Homo sapiens: one gene and its partners. The protein of the gene in region 4 interacts with the protein of the main gene of each other region in a pairwise test. Each region holds a gene or a part of one and is shown on either strand. Other genes may lie near its edges. The genes, in order: QTGAL, HSH2D, SCN2A, MPP3 and MDH1.

Region 1 (3,949 bases), about 39 Mb from region 4:
GCATGCTGCTGGAAGAGCGGCACTGACGGGGTTGGAGAGGGGGTCCCTGAGAAGTAGATCCTGAAGAGGCTGTTTCTGAAAAACTAAACCAGATTCGTGTAGAATTTGCATTTTATAACTGCTTCTCGGAGCCTCCCGTTTACTCACCTAAATGTCCCCGGTAACTTGGACAACGGTTATTCAAAGGTTTTCATTACTTTGCTCAGATCCATCAGAGCAATCACTATCTTTGGCGGCTACGGCCTTAGAAAACGTCTTTCTCCAATAAGACTGGAAAGTTGGAATGACTCCTGGACCCACGGTCTGCAGAACGGATGCTGTGTCAGCACAAAAACACGAACCCCTCGTACATCAGCCTCAGAGCTCCTGGGTGACCAGGTGCACCGTCAATGAGCAGTCGTATTTTGAAAGGAATCTCCTTTTCTGAGCACTGGGCCTAACGGTGGGCTTACACTATTCCATCAACCGTGCTGTGCACAGATGTGCTGCCACCTGGGCCTTGCCGTTCCATTTCTAGAGCCACAGGCAGAGCAGATTTAGCCTCATTCCTAAGAATCCTAGGATTCTCAGAATGGCGACCACTGCCTTCAACTTAACCCATTTATGGCTGAGGTTGCAATTTTTCGAATTTTTGCAATCAGATCTTGGCAGTGACCTTAAGCAGAATATAAACTTGCACATGCTTAGCGTTCCAATAATGGAACACTAGGCATAGATGGGTTTTAAAGTCACGGCAAAGAGTCAGACTGTCTTTTGAAGCTCTGAAGCCAGGCATTGACTTCTCCCTACCTATGAAAGGCCTGCATGGTGTCTTCTTCCAGTTCAAGGTTGCTTCCTCTACACTGAAGATCTGTGGTTGAGTGCGGCCACCTCCATTGTGACCGTAGCATGATCTTCTGGAGAGCCTGCTGCCTCACCTCACACTCATATTACGGAGACGGCTTCTTTCCTTAAGCCTTGTGGGCCAACCTCTGCTAGCTTCAAACTTATGTTCACAGCTTCCTCACATCATTCAGCCTTCACAGAATTGAAGAGAGTTGGGACCTCGCTCTGTATTAGGCTTTGGCTTAAGGGAATGTTGTGGCTGGTTTGATCTGTCAGACCACTAACACTTTCTCCCTATCCGCACTATCATTTGTGTGTTCACTGGAGGACCACTTTTAATTTCCTTCAATAACTTTTCCTTTGCATTCACAACTTGGCTAACCGTTAGGCTGAAAGCTGGGCCTCTCCTGCCAGTCGTGGCTTTCGACATGCCTTCCTCACTAAGCTTAAACATTTCTAGCTTTTGATTTAAAGCGAGAGACGTGCGACTCTTCCTTTCACTTGAACACTTAGAGTCCACTGTGGGGTTATTAGTTAACCTAATTTCAATGTTGTGCCTCAGGGAATAGGGAGGCCTGAGGAGGGGTGGGGTGGGGGGGAGCGGGGAGGCGACAGCTGCTGTCAGAACATTCGCATTTTATCAATCAAGTTCACTGATTCATATGGGCGCCCCGAGATAGTAGTGACACCACAGGTCACCGTAACACATACAGTAACAGTTTGACATATTGCGAGAATTAACACGTGGAGATGGGGAGACGTGGAGACGTGGAGTGGGCGTGCTGCTGGAAGAGGGGCACTGATGGGGTTGCTCTCGTGGGGCTGCCACACGCCTGTAATTTATAAAATGCACAATGAAGTGCAATAAAATGAGGTGCGCCAGTAGTTGCCAGAAAGCTGTGCCCAAGAGGCTCTGCTCACGTTGTTCTGCCTGGACTTGACTTGGATTAGTTGTGTGACAGCTCATCACAGGCCGGGCAGTGTAGACCAACACACGCTGGCCTCACGGCTTCTGCGGGGCAGGAACCGTGACCCGCCCTGGTGTGGCGTGCTTCTAGCTGTCACAGGTGCCCATGTCTGTGTGTCCCCCACAACCCCCCAACAGTACCGCTTGGGGCCTGGCTCACTCTATCAACCACTCACCCGTGGTTATTTACCAAGAAAATGCAAAGCAAAAAAAGCAGGGGTTGCAATCCTAGTCTCTGATAAAACAGACTTTAAACCAATGAAGATTAAAAAAGACAAAAAAGGGCATTACCTAATGGTAAAGGGATCAATGCAACAAGAAGAGCTAACTATCCTAAATATACACACACCTAATACAGGAGCACCCAGATTCATAAAACAAGTTCTTAGAGACCTACAGAGAGACTTAGGCAACCACACAATAATAATGGGAGACTTTAACACCCCACTGTCAATATTTGAGACAGAAAATTAACAAGGATATTCAGGACTTGAACGCAGCTCTGGACCAAGCGGACCTAATAGACATCTACAGAACTCTCCACCCTAAATCAACAGAATATACATTCTTCTCAGCACCACACAGCACTTACTCTAAAATTAACCACATAATTGGAAGTGAAACACTCCTCAGCAAATGCAAAAGAACAGAAATCCTAACAGTCTTTCAGAACACAGTGCAATCGAATTAGAACTCAGGATTAAGAAACCCAAAATCGCAGAACTACATGGAAACTGAACAACCTGCTCCTGAATGACTACTGGGTAAATAACAAAATTAAGGCAGAAATAACGAAGTTCTTTGAAACCAATGAGAACAGAGAGACAACGTACCAGAATCCCTGGGACACAGCTAAAGCAGTGTTAAGAGGGAAATTTATAGTGCTAAATGCCCACATCAGAAAGCAGGAAAGATCTAAAATCGACACCCTGACATCACAATTAAAAGAACTAGAGAAGCAAGAGCAAACAAATTCAAAAGCTAGCAAAAGACAAGCAAGATCAGAGCAGAACTGAAGGAGATAGAGACACAAAAATCCCTTCAAAAAAATCAATGACTGGTTTTTTGAAAAGATTAACAAAATAGACCACTAGCCAGGCAAAGAAAAGAAGAATCAAGTAGACACAATAAAAAAAGATAAAGGGGCTGTCACCACTGATCCCACAGAGATACAAGCTACCATCAGAGAATACTATAAACACCTCTATGCAAATAAACTAGAAAATCTAGACGAAATGGATAAATTCCTGGACACATACACCCTCCCAAGACTAAACCAGGAAGAAGTCGAATCCCTGAAAAGACCAATAACAAGTTCTGAAATTGAGGCAGTAATTAATACCCTACCAACCAAGAAAAGCTCAGGACCAGATGGATTCACAGCCGAATTCTACCAGAGGTACAAAGAGGAGCTGGTACCATTCATTCTGAAACTTCCAAACAATAGAAAAAAAGGGACTACTAACTCATGAGGCCAGCATCATCCTGATTCCAAAACCTGGCAGAGACACAACAAAAAAAATTTCAGGCCAATACCCCTGATGAACACTGATGTGAAAATCATCAATAAAATACTGGCAAACTGAATCCAGCAGCACATCAAAAAGCTTATCCACCATGATCAAGTCAGCTTCATCCCTGGGATGCAAGGCTGGTTCAATATACGCAAATCAATAAACATAATCCATCACATAAACAGAACCAAAGACGAAGACCACATGATTATCTCAACAGATGCAGAAAAGGCCTTCAATAAAATTCAACACCCTTAGTGCTAAAAACTCCCAATACACTAGGTATTGATGGAACGTATCTCAAAATAATAGCTATTTATGACAAACCCATAGCCAGTATCATACTGAATGGGCAAAAGCTAGAAGCATTCCCTTTGAAAACTGGCACAAGACAAGGATGGCCTCTCACCACTCCTATTCAACATAGTATTGGAAGTTCTGGCCAGGGCAATCAGGCAAGAGAAAGAAATAAAGAGTATTCAGATATGAAGAGAGGAAGTCAAATTGTCTCTGTTTGCAGATGACATGATTGTATATTTAGAAAACCCCATTGTCTCAGCCCAAAAACTCCTTAAGCTGATAAGCAACTTCAGCAAAGTCTCAGGATACAAAATCGATGTGCAAAAATCACGAGCATTCCTAT
Region 2 (3,949 bases), on a different chromosome or scaffold from region 4:
CTCAGCCTGGAGTGCAGTGGCACGACCTCAGCTCACTGCAATCTCCGCCTCCTGGGTTCAAGTGATTCTGCTGCCTCAGCCTCTCGAGTAGCTGGGATTACAGGCATGCGCCACCACGCCTGGCTAATTTTGTATTTTCAGTAGACACAAGGTTTCACCATGTTGTCCAGGCTGGTCTCAAACTCCTGACCTCAGGTGGTCTGCCAGCCTCGGCCTCCCAAAGTGCTGGGATTACAAGCATGAGCCACTGCACCCAGCCTAAAATTCCTTTTAGAGATGGAGTCTCACTATGTTGTCCAGGCCAGCCTTGAACTCCTGGGCTCAAGCGATCCTCCCGCCTCAGCATTCCAAGTAGCTGGGATTAAAGGTAAGTGCCAGTGCAGCCAGCTGCTTCTTTTAATATAACTACTAAAATTTTTTTAAATTGCAATGTGCAACTCATGTTATATTTCTGTTATTCAGCAAGGCCCCAGAGCTCAGAAACCATGACCAATACTACTTCCTCTCTGTGGCCTTCACAGAATTTTCTCAATTTCCTGCATGCAGAGAGTGGCCATAAATATTTTTTCCTCCATTTAGTTAGAGCCGGGCCCACATCCTCAGAGCTCACAGTCTGAGGTAGAAAGGGCACATTGGGGCCAGGCACGGTGGCTCATGCCTGTAATCCCAGCACTTTGGGAGGCCGAGGCCGGCAGATCACTTGAGGTCAGGAGTTTGAGACTAGCCTGGCCAACATGGTGAAACCTCGTCTCTACTAAAAATACAAATATTAGCCGGGTGCGGTGGTGCATGCCTGTAGTCCCAGCTACTCATGAGGCAGGAGGATTGCTTGAACCCAGGAGATAGAGGCTGCAGTGAGCCGAGATCGCGCCACTACACACCAGCCTGGGCAACAGGAGCGGAACTCTGTCTCAAAAAAAAAAAATAGAAAAAGAAAAAAAAAGAAAGGGCACATTGGTTGTATCCTGATGGGTTGAGAGCAGCTGCTTGGAGTACTGTGTTCAGAAAGATTCTGGCCGGGTGCGGTGGCTCACGCCTGTAATCCCAGCACTTCGGGAGGCCGAGGCGGGTGAATCACTTGAGGCCAGGAGTTTGAGACCAGCCTGGCCAACATGGTGAAACCCTATCTCTACTATAAACACAAAAATTAGTCAGGCTTGGTGGCATGTGCCTGTAATCCCAGCTACTTAGCAAGTTGAGGCGGAAGAATCACTTGAGTCCGGGAGGCAGAGGTTGCAGTGAGCCAAGATTGCACCACTGCACTCCAGCCTGGGTGACAGAGTGAGACCCTGTCTCAAAAAGAAAGAGAGAAAGATTCTGAGGCTGCATGCTGCCATCGTTGATTGGTAATGCTTGGCCTGGGCGAGGTGTGGGGTGCTGCCAGGTCCCTGGCAGTGCTGGTCTGTTGGCCACTTGTATAGAGAAAGCTGAGGCTCAGAGAGAGCAAGTAACTTGCCCCAGGTCACACAGTGAGCCCAAAGAGGTGGCAGGATTCAAGCCTGGGAGCCTGGAGCTCATTTTAGCCTCTTGCCACACTGAGCTGAGCCAAGTCCAGAATTCTGCAGTTAAAAGCTGCCCAGGGTAGGGACAGACAAGGACAGGGTGGGGAGGGCAGGGTGGAGGGTGTGGGTGTGTCCTCACTCTCTTGAGATTGCACCATGGAACCACTCGGGGACCCCGTCTTGGGCCAGCTGGCCCATCTGGGTGTGCACAAACCAGTCCAGCCGTGGGGGTAGCGGTAGGGGCAGCTTCCCGGCCTCTGTCATAGCTTCCTGGGGTGGAGGGAAGGTCACCTGGGTAGAGAAGGGAGGGAAGACAAGAATCAAGCTTGATGCACCTCTTATCTTTGCTCTATTCTTGAAGCTTGTGGTGCCTCCTCCTTTGAGAAGTCCTCCAGGGTGGACAGAGCAATGGACTTAAAACTGGCTTGTGGCTGGGTGTGACGGCTCACATGTGTAATCCCAGCACTTTGGGAGGCCAAGGTGGGAGGATTGCTTGAGCCCAGGAGTTCCAGACCAGCCTGGGCAACATAGTGAGACCCCCATCTCTACAAAAAATTAAAAAATTTGGCCAGGTGCGGTGGCTCACGCCTGTAATCTCAGCACTTTGGGAAGCCAAGGTGGGTAGATCACCTGAGGTCAGGAGTTTGAGACCAGCCCGGCCAACATCATGAAACCCTGTCTCTACTAAAAATACAAAAATTAGCTGGGTGTGGTGGTGGGCACTTGTAATCCCAGCTACTCCGGAGGCTGAGGCAGGAGAATCACTTGAACCCGGGGGGCAGAGGTTGCAGTGAGCCAAGATCATGCCACTGTGCTCCAGCCTGGGCGACAGAGTGAGACTCCTCAAAAAATAAATAAGCAAATAAATCAATAAAATAAAATTTAAAAATTAGCTGGGTGTGGTGGTGCATGCCTGTAGTCCCAGCTACTCAGGAGGCTGAGGTGGGAGGATCCCTTGAGCTCAGGAGGATATGGCTGCAGTGAGCTGTGGTTGTGCCACTGCACTCCAGCCTGGGGAACAGAGCAAGACCATGTTTCAAAAACAACAACAACAAAAAACTGGCTTGTGTGGCTGGGCGTGGTGGCTCACGCCTGTAATCCTAGCACTTTGGGAGGCCAAGGCAGGTGGATTACCTGAGATCAGGAGTTCAAGACCAGCCTGGGCCACGTGGTGAAACCCTGTCACTACAAAAATACAAAAATGAGCTGGGCACAGCGGCCTGTGCCTATAATCACAGCTACTTGGGAGGCTGAGGCACGAGAATCACTTGACCCCAGGAGGCGGAGGCTGCAGTGAGCCGAGATTGCACCACTGCACTCCAGCCTGGGCAACAGAGTGAGACTCCGTCTCAAAACAAAACAAAACAAAACAAAACAAAAAAAAAACCACTGGCTTGTGATTTTTTGGGCACCTACTATGTGCCTGATAGTTTTTACACATTCATTCATTGGCTCATCCCCAAAGGCCTTCAAGGACTTTTCCTTTTATTCTTCTTATGCCATTGTGTTTTTTTTCTTTTTTTTTTTTTTTGAGACAGGGTCTCACTCTGTCACCCAGGCTGGAGTGCAGTGGCCCCATCTTGGCTCACTGCAGCCTCGACCTTCTTCCCTCAAGTGATTCTCCCACCTCAGTCCCCCAAGTAGCTGGGACCACAGGCATGTGCCACCACGCCTGGCTAATTTTTGTATTTTTGTAGAGATGGGGTTTCACCTTGCTGCCCACATTGGTCTCAAACTCCTGGACTCAAGAAATCCACCTGTGTCAGCCTCCCAAAGTGCTAGCATTACAGGTGTGAGCCATTGTGCCCAGCCTTTTATGCCATTATTGCAAGGACTAGAAAGTTCATTTTATAAATAAATGTTTTGAAATTTAAGAATAGAGTATTTAGAGCTGGGCATGGTGGTTCACGCCTGTAATCCCAGCACTTTGGGAGGCTGAGGCAGGTGGATCACCTGAGGTCAGGAGTTCGAGGCCAGCCTGGCCAACATGGTGAAACCCCATCTCTACTAAAAATACAAAAATTAGCCAGATGAGGTGGTGGGTGCCTGTAATCCCAGCTACTCAGGAGGCTGAGGCAGGAGAATTGCTAGAACTCAGGAGGCAGAGGTTGCAGTGAGCCAAGATCGCGCCATTGCACTCCAGCCTGGGGGGCAGAGTGAGACTCCATCTCAAAAAAAAAAAAAAGAGTAGAGTATTTAAATATTAAGTAAATATCAAGGCCCCTGGAGGAATAAGGAAATGACAAAATGGCAAGTGAACGAAATAAACAGCTGACCCAACGGTGGTGGTCAAAAAGGGTTGCCCTGATTTCTTTCTTTCTTTTTTTTTGAGACAGGGTTTCCCTCTGTTCCTGAGGCTGGAGTGTGCAATGGTGCAATCACAGCTCATGCTCACTGCAGCCTCAACCTCCTAGGCTCAAGCAATCCTCCCACTTCAACCTCCTGAG
Region 3 (3,949 bases), on a different chromosome or scaffold from region 4:
AGTTAACTGGGTGGCTTCCATTAGATCTTGGTGATTTATATAAACTAAGGTAGTAAATAATTTTATTACACTTAAGGGATTGAAAACACAAAACGATGAGGTCAATTTTCCCAACTGAATTGAGCAGGAAAATAAATAACATTCATTGTCCCTTATTCACTAAGCTAAGGCGTGCTTCTAACTGAAACTAAAAACAAAACATTTCCAAGAAATCTGGCATTGTTAGCATTATTTCAATTTATCTTTAAAAAAAGAGCATAATTAACTTCCTGTGATATGGTCACTAGAGATTAGACAGTGAGAATACTGCAATGATTAAGTCCTGGACAAAATAACTAGCTTTATCACATCTGTAAAATGAGACCAGTGCTTTGCTCCACACGGTTGTAAGAATTAAAGCAACCTACATAGCGAAAGCTCAGGACACAGCATATGCAGGACCAGTATTAAATTTTAAGTGTATGCTCATCCTATGACTAAAACAGCATATTTGTAAAACTTCTTATGTGCCAGACATTGAGTGTGGTATTTGGGAGACAGATATGATGACCAAGTTCCTGACTTTGAGGAGCTCACAATCTAGAAGATGAACAAGCAAACAAAGAACAATGAAGTCACAAGAGAAAAACATTAAATGTCATATATATCAGGAAAAGGTCTTCAGTAACTATTAATGATACATTTACTGTCATTTAAGGTTTGATTTTATAACACTAATATGCATTTTATTTCTATTGGTGTAAATACTGAATGAAAAATCAGGCAGATTGCACTGGGTCATTTGTAAATGTGAATCAGCCCAATAAAGTGAAAGAGAAAGCATGGTGCCCCTTAGTATGCTTAAAGGAATAAATTTAAGTTTCTAAGATTCATTATTTTATTCTACAAACATTTTTAGTCTCTTCTATAGATCAGGAAGTGTTCTAAGCATTTGTGAAACATCAGTGCACCAAACAGATGATAATCTCTGCCCATTTGGGGCTTAAATTACCAACAAGAGAAATGCAATGTATACAGTATGCTATAATGTGATGTGTTAGAAGGGAAGGAAATAAAAGAAAGGAAAGAAAAGGAAAAAAAGAACAAAGCAAAGCAAATGATAACAAAGAAAAGAAAGTATAGAAGAATGTGGGAGACGATAAGAATGAAGTTAGAGGAAGGGGGCTGAGATTTTTAAATGGGATAGTTAAGAGTAGGTATTATTTAGAAACGACATTTGAGCTCAGATTTTAAACAGGTGAGGAGGTTAGTCATGCAAGTGCCTGAGGCAAAAGGTTTCTAGGCAGAGGAAACAGCCCAAAGGATTGAAGTGTTCCTGCAATATTCAAGAAATAGTGAAAGTGAATGAGGGAAAGAAAAACTGGAGACAAATTCAGAGAAATACTGTAATGGGATGGAGACCAGGCTAAATAGAGACTTTTTGGAAATTGTCAGGTGCCTTTTACCCTGAGAAAACTGGATATCACTTGCAGAATTTTGAGCAGGGATGTGGCGTAATCTTACTTCTGTCTTGCCGTATTGAGAATAGATTGTAAGGAGAAGTAGAAGAATAAAGTCCAATTAGGAAATTAAGGCAGAAATCCATGAGAAACTTGATGGTGGCTTGAGCAGGGTAGCAGTGTGAAGGTGGCAGCACATAGATCCTGGGTATATTCTGAAGTTGAAATCAACAGGAATTTCTCATGGACTGAATGTCAGATATAAGAGAAAAAGAATAATCAAGGATGATACTAGAGTTGTTAGCCTGAGGATGAGGAAAACTAGAGTTATCTCCTGAAAAAAGTAAGGTGGGGAAAGCGAGGATTGGAGCAGGTTGGTTGGGAAGAACTATCCGAAATTTAGTTTAGGGATGTTAACTTTTCAGTGTCTTCTAGATATCCAAGCCAAATAAGCAGTTAGACACACAAGTTCAGTTTGGCAGAAAACTGGAGGTAAATATTTGGATGTCATCATGATTTATATGGCATTTAACGCCATAAAACTCAATGGGATCAAAAGAAAGTAGATAAAGAAGAAAAGAAAATCAGGGACAGAATCAGGGACACCCAAATAATGAAGTCTGGGAAGGCAGAGTAAAGAGTAAAGTGACTGTGAAGGAGTGAACAATAAGCTAAGAGAAGAGTCAAAATTGTGTGCTATCCTGAAATCCAACGGAAGGCAGTGTATCAAGGGGGAGACAGCAATGAACTGTCTCCAATATTGCTGGATGGTCAAGTAAGATGAAAGCTGAGGATGGACTGATGAATTTGGCAATAGGGTGGTCATCAGATTTCTATCAGGAGCTGATTTGGTGAAATGGTAAGAGTAAAAACTTGACTAACGTAAATTTAAAAGAGAATAGAAAGAGAGTCATAGATACAGAGAATACAGCAAACACTTTCATTAAGTATTATTGCAAAGACAACAAAAAATAAAAAAAAGATAGTTGAAGGAAGTAAAAAAATTCAAATACAAGAGCAATAATAAAATGCTTGTATGCAAATATAATAAAGAGCTAAAATTACTAATGCAGGAGAGACAGAGAAATAAAATGCTCTAGAGATGCCCTTGTGTAAGTAAGAAAGAATAGGATCTAGTGCACAGATGCAGGAATGATTTTAGATAGAAACAGGGATAGTTGATTTAAGGTAATGGGTGGGAGGTCAGGTTATGTGGGTGCAGAACCTGGTAGGAAGGCACATGCAGTGATAGAAACCTGTGGGGAAAAATCTCTCCTGATTGTTTCAATTTTCTCACTGATTTAGGAAACAAAGTTGTCAACTGAGAGTGAGGTCAAGGTAGGAGGTATTGGTGGTTTGAGGAGAAAAGAAAGGGTATGAAATCTAAGTACAAGAACCTGGGAGAGTAAGTGATCCAGGGACATGTGGCATGGTTGCTGGGCATCAATCTAGGGACATGTGGCATGATTGCTGGGCATCATGAAGGACCCACTTTTGCATGCGTCCAGCTGCAAAAGTGCAGGCAGGAAGTAAGGTGGGAACTGAATATGAGGATGAAGATTTAGCCAGACAGTTACCAAAAAACCAACCAAACAAAAAAACACTGAGCGGAGGAGTTTGTGAGGTATGTATGTATATACAAGGAGTGACTTTTATGAATAACTGTGGAATTTATCTAATGAAAGGAAAGAGGACATTTAGTGAGAGATAATCAAAGTATGACGAGATCAGTGATTTAGAGGCCTGGTGGGATTAAAGGAATGAATTGGAGTTGTAGATGAAATGCGCTAGAAAGGTGGTGTAGGATGTATGAAGGAAGGATTATGGGCAGGCCACAGTTACTGGCCATGAAGAGTTTCAAGATAAAACCATGGGAGTGGATGTCTGAAGAAGGGTAAAAAAAACATGATCATTGGAGGAAAATAATTTAACTACTTTACAGGATAGTCTGTTAAGAGGCCATACATATGCATATTGACATTACCAAGATTTGGGTATAAAGTGCCAGTGGAGAAAATTCCAGTGTTCTTGGAGCTAAATTCCTATCTTCTAAGGATTACACATTCATGAAAACTCCTTAAAAGATGCATACCCAAATGTGGAAATAATTTGAATCCATATTTTATCCTGCTTTTGCTTTTATATTTGAATAGATTTATGATGCTGTGAGTCTAGGTTTGTAATAACAGCATAATTTACTAACAGTTTTTTTTTGCACACAGTTGAATTCCCTGGGAAGTCAGGCTTAACATTATTGGAGTGACATCATTCCTGGTGATATAACTAAGGATTCAACAAGAATCATTAGAGATTTCGGTTGATGGATTTATCAAGGCCAGTAATTGGAGCAGCTTAGCTGAATGCCCTTTGTCTAATTGATAGGTCATTTCACATTTTAACTTTCTAACACTTAGGCAACAAAATCATGAACAATTTAATTGAATAGACTGATTAAATGTAGAAGTTTCTTGACCCTTAGAAGTGGAGTGACTGTGCATCCCAGTTTACCT
Region 4 (3,949 bases):
AACCTTTCTACCCAAACGAATCTGGGGCACAAACACTCTCTTTGTAATAGTAGCTTGACAAGACCTGGGATGGTGGGGAAGGGTGTCAACCCTGTCCCACAGTTAGTAATCCCGCAAGCCCATGCTATATTCTTAACTGTCACAGTCCTTGGACTAAACCAACGCATGAGCTTTTTCTCAATCACCCCAAAGTACTCCATGACTATTTATATATATATATATTTTTTTTTTTTTTCTTTTTTTTTTGAGACGGTCTCACTGCGTCGCCCACTCTAGAGTGTAGTGGTGTAATCACGGCTCACTGCAACCTCAAACTCCTGGGCTCAAACAATCTTCCTGCCTGGGCCTCCCGAACAGCTAGGACTACAGGTGTGGGCCACCCGTGCATGGCCTATATTTTCTTTTTCTTTTTTTCTTTTTTTTGAGACGGAATTTCACTCTTGTTGCCCAGGCGGGAGCGCAATGGCGCGATCTCGGCTCACTGCAACCTCCACCTCCCAGATTCAAGCGATTCTCTTGCCTCAGCCTTCCCAAGTAGCTGTGATTATAGGCATGTGCCACCAAGCCTGGCTAATTTTGTATTTTTAGTAGAGATGGGGTTTCTCTGTGTGGGTCAGGCTGGTCTCGAACTCCCGACCTCAGGTGATCCGCCCACCTCGGCCTCCCAAAATGCTGGGATTACAGGCGTGAGCCACTGTGCCTGGCTTTTTTTTTTTTTTCTTTTTTTTTTTTTTTTGAGACAGAGTCTCACTCTGTTGCCCAGACTGGAGTGCAGCAGCATGATCTTGGCTCACTGCAACCTCCGCCTCCCAGGTTTGTGTGTTTAGTAGAAATGGGGTTTCGCCATGTTGGCTAGGCTGGTCTGGAACTCCTGGCTTCAAGTGATCCGCCTGCCTCGGCCTCTTAAAGTGCTGGGATTACAGGTGTGCACCACCATGCCCAGCTGGCCTATATTTTCTATTAAAATTTCTACTGACTTGGGAAGGAGATGAGAATTCCAGCCACAACCCCAGAAAGCAAAGCAAATCCCAAACAGGTGACCTGATAGGAGGGAGGTAAGGGGACCTATTAGCAAAGGTGGAGGGCTCTGGAACAATGGCCATGATCGGGGCTGGGCCAGCTTTGCACTGCCGCCACTCACCGCTCCTGTCTGCTGCGCCTCCTCGCATGATCCTGGCCACCACAACAGCCCCTGAGTGCTCGTCCCGCCGGATGGTGGCACCCTGAACCCGAGACAGAAGAGACAGGTTCTTAAGCAGCAGCTCCAAACCTCAGACCCCTACTCTCTGGACCCAACACAGCCTCCCCAGTCCCTCCCTCTGACAGTCCAGAGAGATCAGTGGGGACCTTCCCAATGCTGAAGACAAAACAAAACCAACATCCCCCATTAATATAGCCCTGCACTGTACAGTTTACAAGGCACAATAATGCTGCAACATTTTAGATGAGGGACTGGGGCTCAGAGAAGTTAAATATCCTCAAGGTCACCCAGCTGGTAAAGGGGAAAGCTTTTTGTGATGCCAAATCCAGTAAGTTCTCCATCACATCTCTCTCATATCACAGTTCCTACCACTTGCAAAGACATTTAATAATGAGGATGACACGTGCCAGCTAATTCTCACCCTGCCTCTACCCAATCACAGGGTTACCGGGCCTTCTGCTGCTGCTGAGGGAAACCAATTATGCACCCCAGCCAGGGCTTCGGGACCAGGACTTGGCCCATGAAGCACAGCAGAGATGACACTTAGGATGAGAAAGGCACTAACGAGCCCTCGATTTCCTGCACCACACAGGCCGGACTGCAGCAGGACGGCAGAAAGCTTAAGAGCTAAGCTCTAGGGCTGGACAGCCTTGGGTGTGAACACAGTTCTGCCGTTTACAAAAAGCATGTGGACTTAACAAGGAAATCTCTTATCCTCTCCAAGCCTGTTTCCTGTGAGATGTGGGACAGCATTTAACTCACAGTGTTGTTGCAAGGATTCCACTCAAGGCACTTAGTACACAGTAAGCACTCAACATATGTTAACCACTTATTAGTGGCTGTAACTGCAAACACATTTGCACACTTATTGTTAACATCATCTGTGCCATCTATTTGAAGTACGTAAGATAATTATTGCTAGAAAGAGAGGCCATCAGCTAAGAACCTCAGGACTTCTAGCCCCCCAGAACTGAGAACTTTCCAGCATCGCTATCCATCATTTATTCAGCTCTGAACCGCCAGCACCCAATACAGAGCCTGGATAGGAGGGCTCACAATGTGTTTGCTAAATCAATGGATGGCCACTCCATTTTACAAGTGAGGAAACAGAGGCAGAGGAGAGATCCTCGTCTGTTTGCAGAAGAGGCTCGTCGGAGGTCATTTGGGGAAAGTTGGAAATAGAGAATGCCAGCTGTGGGATCCTCTGGAGCCAATCTCAATTCTCTGGGCTTCCACCACTTCTGAGCATCTCATAAACAACGCTGTCCCTTTGCTCGGTAAATCAATGCTGAACCAGGACCAAAGTGATAGCAGTCTGTCTGCTGGGGAGAGGAATGCCCTGTGCTTCCTCAACATTCAGAGCAGGCATTGTCACACGTTTTCTATAAGGGGCCACATGTAAATATTTGAGGCCAGCCACACAGTCTCTGTCACAACGACTCAACTCTGCCATCGCACTATAAAGGCAGCCACAGCCAATCTGTAAGTGAATGGGCCTGGTTGTGCTCCAAAAAAGCTTTATTTTAAAAAATAAGCTGTGGGCTGGTTTTGGCCCTTGGGCTGTAGTTTGTCCATTTCTGGCTTAAAGCATGATCAGGGTCACCCTGTACAATTGTGCAGGTTATTAACTACACAAAGGGTGTTGGCCACAGTTGAGAGGGGCTGTATCCACCTAGAGAAAGGGGTGCCCTGCACACAGAGGCACCACAGGGATGAGCAGCAGCGCAGGCAAAGCTGCCGTCACTCACTCTGAAGACTTCGGGGAGGATCTTGTCCAGTGTTCTGGGTGGGGGTGAGAGGCAGGGGAAGAGTGGGTTAGAGAGGGGCAGGCAGCAGCACCTACCAGGGGTTCCTTGTTCTTCACCAAGCGGACGATCTTCACCGATTCCTCATCAAAATCCTCATCGATATTGTCAGGCAGAGGCGGGAGAACGGGGTCAAAATTCTTCTGGGCAACCGTGTCATGTACCATGAGCACAGCCTGCCGGGAAAGCCAGAGAAAAGGAAGGCTGGCCCGCCGCTCACAGGGTCAGCAGGCCGCAGCTGGCCGGTGGTATGGAGGGTGGCAGACGCCATGCCAGAGAGACAACTGCCCAGACACTAGTGCTGAGGATCGCTCCCTCAGTCTCCACTCCTCAGCCTCATTAGGAGAGCTCCCTCCGCCCCCATCCCAGGAGACCCAGAGGCATGGCTGGGCAGGGGCTCTGTGTGACTACCCTCAGGTGCGGGGTGGACAGCAGCTGGAGCAGCTCCCTCTCATCACTGTGCACGGAGGCGGCCTGCAACTCCTCCATCACCTGCAGAGAATGAGACAGGCGCCACTGATGGCTAGAGGTGCCCCTGCCCCATATCTGCTGGGTCCTTCCTCTTTGGAAGGGCCCACCCAGCTGCAGCCCCCAGGGGCACACCAGACCCTCAACCACCCGACGACGATGATCCTGGGAACATCACACCAGGGGTCAGGAGCAGCTCTATGGGGCCATCCTCCAAGGAGCCACCGTTTTAAGCCCTACGTGCTTTCTGCTTTATGTGGATCTTCTCACTGAACCCTCGCAACCAACTTGATGCAGAGGGTCTTGTTACTTTGCCATTTTACAGATGAGAATCCTGAGACTCAAAGAGATTAAACATTTTGCCCGAAGTCACAGAGCTCATATACAGCACAGCTAGGATTTGAACCTGGGCTTATCTGGCTCTCAGATGCTATTTTATGAATGAGGAAATGGGAGCTCAGAGAGGTTGAGTGGC
Region 5 (3,949 bases), on a different chromosome or scaffold from region 4:
AGACTCCATAACAACACAATGTAGACAATTCCTACGTTGTCTATAATGTGTGTGTGTGTAGACAATTTCAGGTGTATAACCCTTGTGCAATATTACACTTAACTGGTATAATAAATTATATACACACACACATTGGGGAAAAAAGGATAGTCCTTTACCTGACATTGATTGTTGCTCATTTCTTACCCTTATTTATCCTTGGTATACATAAGTAGTTAATAAACAGTGGTAGTTCAAAATAAAAAAATCCTCTTATGAAATAATTTCTAATTGAGAGCCTTTAACAAAAACCTAAAACCTGTATTTTGTAAGAAATCAAATACCATAAAATCCCTTCTCTACTCCCCAACCCACCTTTCAGGAGGGGAAGGGCACAGTCTTGCAGTTCCATTAGGACACCGTCCAGGACACCCATCATGGGGGTGATATCCAACAGCACAAGAATTATAGGCTACCAAATAGCAAGGACAGCATCTGTTAGTGTAGGCTATTTCATTTAGACACAAGAAAGTCTTTTCACATAGTTTTTATTTGGTATGTACATGCATGTAATTCCCATTAATTAGTCATGATGATTATTTTAGGAGGTCAGGTATCTAGCACTATGCCACTTTCAGAAAGAAGGATGCTATAAAACCAGCATTGGTTTGCTAACAGACACAGTGAGAGGAATCACCACTACTCAATTTTAACAGTATATGAAAAAAACATTAAACTGAGTGACATGCTATAGCTTGCTCTTATTGTTAATAGCTGTATATTTGATTTCAGTTCATGGAAAGCTAAGTACAGTATCTGACATGAAAGAATAATTCAGTATCCATGGGTCAAGAAACTGAATAAATGAATACCTTAGAAAAGGATTTTAGTGTATATTAATCAGGCTTGCTGGAAGTCGGAGTGCCTGCTTCAGCGGGGAAGCAGATTTCCTTACTCTTTTGGTTCCAAAGGCCATTTATGAACAAGGGAGTGCTTACTGAGTAACTCTCTCCCACATGACTGTAAGTTACTGTCATTAGTGATATCTCCCATTGACTGACACCTGCTGGTTGCACCAAGTCAACTGAGTACAATATATGGAAGAGTTCTCATTTGCAAAGTGTTTTCAGTGCCTGGAGGCGTACATATAAATACCTTAGTAGCTTCCATTTATAGCAATGTGCCTATTACATTTACTGGGATTACATATTCCTTCACTGTTTAACAATTTGTGTACAACTAAATACAGATTTTTATTAACCATATTCTTACTCTAATAACTTAAGATTTATAGACACCTGTTCCTACCTGATCTTTACCAAAGACAGATCCATTTCCAATACTGTACAGCAGTGAATATGCAATTTGACCAGCTGCTCCAGTCACAAGGACTCTGATTGGTTCAGACTGTAATGAAAAAGACCCATTAACATCTTTAAGTACTACTGTACCTTAAAAATATCCAGGATTTTAATCTATAGTAAGAAATCCACATACTTTAAAAGTGAATGTAAAATTTTAAAGTCCTTTTGCATCTGGCTCAGTAGAAAATGAATGTGCTGCATATTTACGTGGTGTTATTTAACTCTCACCATGTAGGGAGCTAAAAGTGTTATCCTGGATTTACTTACATAATCTTATCCACCTTTTTTGGGATATTTTACCACTAAAATAGGCTCAACAATGTTGATGTGTTCAGTATGTGGTGATCCAAACCCTGGCAGCCACTAGAGCCACACAAATCCTTATTATGCAAAGCCCCCACTCCCATCTGCTCAATAGAATCTTCATACCAAGAAGAAGAGTGAAAGAGGCTAAAACTTTCCATTTACATTGAGCCAAAACATTTAAATAAGACAATTAATCGTGCTTCAACTTTGTCTGGAGGAGGAAAAACAAGATTTTTTATTTCGGGAGAAACAACAGCAACATGTAGTGACAGACAGCTGACAACCTGATTCCAAGGGAAAATTATTTTTAAAAGCAAGGAGGGAAGACATACAAACAGAGATTTCAACAGTTCCTGAACAAAATACAGACATAGAAACAAAGATAACTGATATTCAAAGTGATGACTCTGAGTAAAAAAAGACTAAGCTGACAGAATTTTAAAAGATAGAAATATATCTATTAAAAAGAACAAAACAATAATGTTTAGAAACGTAATGGGTAGGTTTAGTTAGACAGAAAAATTCAGTTAAGGTGAACCATTCCTTTCCCCGATAATGCTGGGTAAATGTACTTCCACTGTCACCTTTACCCCTACCTGCATGGAGAAATGGTCCACTGATGTGACTAAGCCCAGAAGTGTTTGGTTTCTTTTTACTTAAAGTTCCTTCTTCCAGATGAGAGTCACGTCTCTGAGACGAAACAAGGATGGATAGCCTCGAAGGCTTCTTTCAAGCTTCTGACACTAAGCTCTGAAAGTTAGCAGCACTCAGCAATTTGGTACTCACTCATAGAAGTCAAAGAAAAAAAAAAATTTCAAAAAAGAAGTGTCAGGCCAGGGATGGTGGCTCATGCCTGTAATCTCAGCACTTTGGGAGGCTGAGGCAGGCGGATCACCTGAGGTTGGGAGTTTGAGACCAGCCTGACCAATATGGAGAAACCCCGTCTCTACTAAAAATACAGAATTAGCTGGGTGTGGTGGCAGGCATCTCCCAGCTATTTGGAAGGCTGAGGCAGGTGAATCACTTGAACCCGGGAGGCAGAGGTTGAGTGAGTGGAGATCGTGCCATTGTATTCCAGCCTGGGCAACAAGAGCGAAACTCCTTCTCAAAAAAAAAACAAAAAACAACAAACAAAAAAAACAAAAAGTGTCAACTGGTGTAGAGAAATGAATTTGATCATAGCCAACTACATACTACACAATTTTTTTTTTCTAATTTATTACTATTTATAGAAAAATCTTTAATGGCCTACACGTTTTTCATTCTGTCATTTTCCCTTCTTTCCTTGAAGTAGAGTAGGTGAGGAAAAGGGAATACAGGAAGAAATTATTACTCCCTTTCCCTTTAGAATACGAGATCCTTAAGGACAGGAACTTTGTCTATTTTATTTACTGCTGTATCTCAATTGCCTAGAACAACACCTGTCCTGTAGTTGGAACTCTGGTATTTGCTTGAAGGAATAGCTGGGTCCTGTAAAACTATCAAAAAGATGGAAATGTATAAGAACTGTTTGAAAACATATGTAACGTGCTTTAAAAAATTTTTTAAGATATTTTATTTATTTAAGCTATTTCAGGCTGAGTGCAGTGGCTCACACCTACAATCCCAGCGCATTGCGCGGGGGGACAAGGCGGGTGGATCACTTGAGCCCAGGAGTTCGAGACCAGCCTGGGCTACATAGTGAAACCCTGTCTCTTAAAAAAACAATTTAGCTGGGTGTGGTGGCAGATGCTGTAGTTCCAGCCACTCAGGAGGCTGAGGTAGGAGAATCACTTGAGCCTTGGAAGTTAAGGCTACAGTGAGCCATTACTGTGTGAGTGCACTTCAGCCTTGGTGACAGAGTGAGATCCTGTCTCAAACAAAAACTTTTTCATATATACTATGAAAACAAAAGGTATTTTATTCATATATATTATGTATTGAGAAAACTGGAAACTTAGTGACCACAATAGTTCCAACTATAGCTAACAAAATTGTCATTAGTACTAATGATATTACCTTATAAATCCACTGATGAACTGTTTTCTCATTTAATTCATTCATTAAACAAAACATCATTAAGTTCCTATCATGTACTTGGTACTATTTTAGGCCAGGGAATCCATTGGTGAATCACGTGAAGGAAACAAAAAGGATACACCAATTTTCTAAAACAGGGGGCTAGAGAAGCAGTAGAGAGTAGTAATTAAAGAGATGGACTCTGGAGCCAGACTTTCTGTGTTCAAGTCCTGGCTCCACAACTCATTAACTGCATGCTCTAGGACAAGTTACTTAACCTTTCTGTATTATTTCCCCATAGT

Evidence for each region.
Region 1: the proteins of MPP3 (region 4) and QTGAL interact in a two-hybrid assay, tested with the Homo sapiens proteins (one large-scale study listed by IntAct).
Region 2: the proteins of MPP3 (region 4) and HSH2D interact in a two-hybrid assay, tested with the Homo sapiens proteins (one large-scale study listed by BioGRID and IntAct).
Region 3: the proteins of MPP3 (region 4) and SCN2A interact in a two-hybrid assay, tested with the Homo sapiens proteins (one large-scale study listed by IntAct).
Region 5: the proteins of MPP3 (region 4) and MDH1 interact in a two-hybrid assay, tested with the Homo sapiens proteins (one large-scale study listed by BioGRID and IntAct).

Annotation. Positions count from the first base shown.
Region 1 is NC_000017.11:82,950,392-82,954,340, forward strand, and holds part of QTGAL (queuosine-tRNA galactosyltransferase), read right to left. Parts: intron 1-3,949.
Region 2 is NC_000019.10:16,146,568-16,150,516, reverse strand, and holds part of HSH2D (hematopoietic SH2 domain-containing protein), read right to left. Parts: intron 1,794-3,949; 5' UTR 1,767-1,793; coding exon 1,642-1,766; intron 1-1,641. UniProt on the Homo sapiens protein: May be a modulator of the apoptotic response through its ability to affect mitochondrial stability. Adapter protein involved in tyrosine kinase and CD28 signaling. Seems to affect CD28-mediated activation of the RE/AP element of the interleukin-2 promoter.
Region 3 is NC_000002.12:165,245,754-165,249,702, reverse strand, and holds part of SCN2A (sodium channel protein type 2 subunit alpha), read right to left. Parts: intron 1-3,949. UniProt on the Homo sapiens protein: Mediates the voltage-dependent sodium ion permeability of excitable membranes.
Region 4 is NC_000017.11:43,826,610-43,830,558, forward strand, and holds part of MPP3 (MAGUK p55 subfamily member 3), read right to left. Parts: intron 3,523-3,949; coding exon of another isoform or gene 3,499-3,522; coding exon 3,418-3,498; intron 3,183-3,417; coding exon 3,045-3,182; intron 1,224-3,044; coding exon 1,142-1,223; intron 1-1,141. UniProt on the Homo sapiens protein: Participates in cell spreading through the phosphoinositide-3-kinase (PI3K) pathway by connecting CADM1 to DLG1 and the regulatory subunit of phosphoinositide-3-kinase (PI3K). Stabilizes HTR2C at the plasma membrane and prevents its desensitization.
Region 5 is NC_000002.12:63,591,925-63,595,873, reverse strand, and holds part of MDH1 (malate dehydrogenase, cytoplasmic), read right to left. Parts: intron 1,387-3,949; coding exon 1,288-1,386; intron 452-1,287; coding exon 355-451; intron 1-354. UniProt on the Homo sapiens protein: Catalyzes the reduction of aromatic alpha-keto acids in the presence of NADH. Plays essential roles in the malate-aspartate shuttle and the tricarboxylic acid cycle, important in mitochondrial NADH supply for oxidative phosphorylation.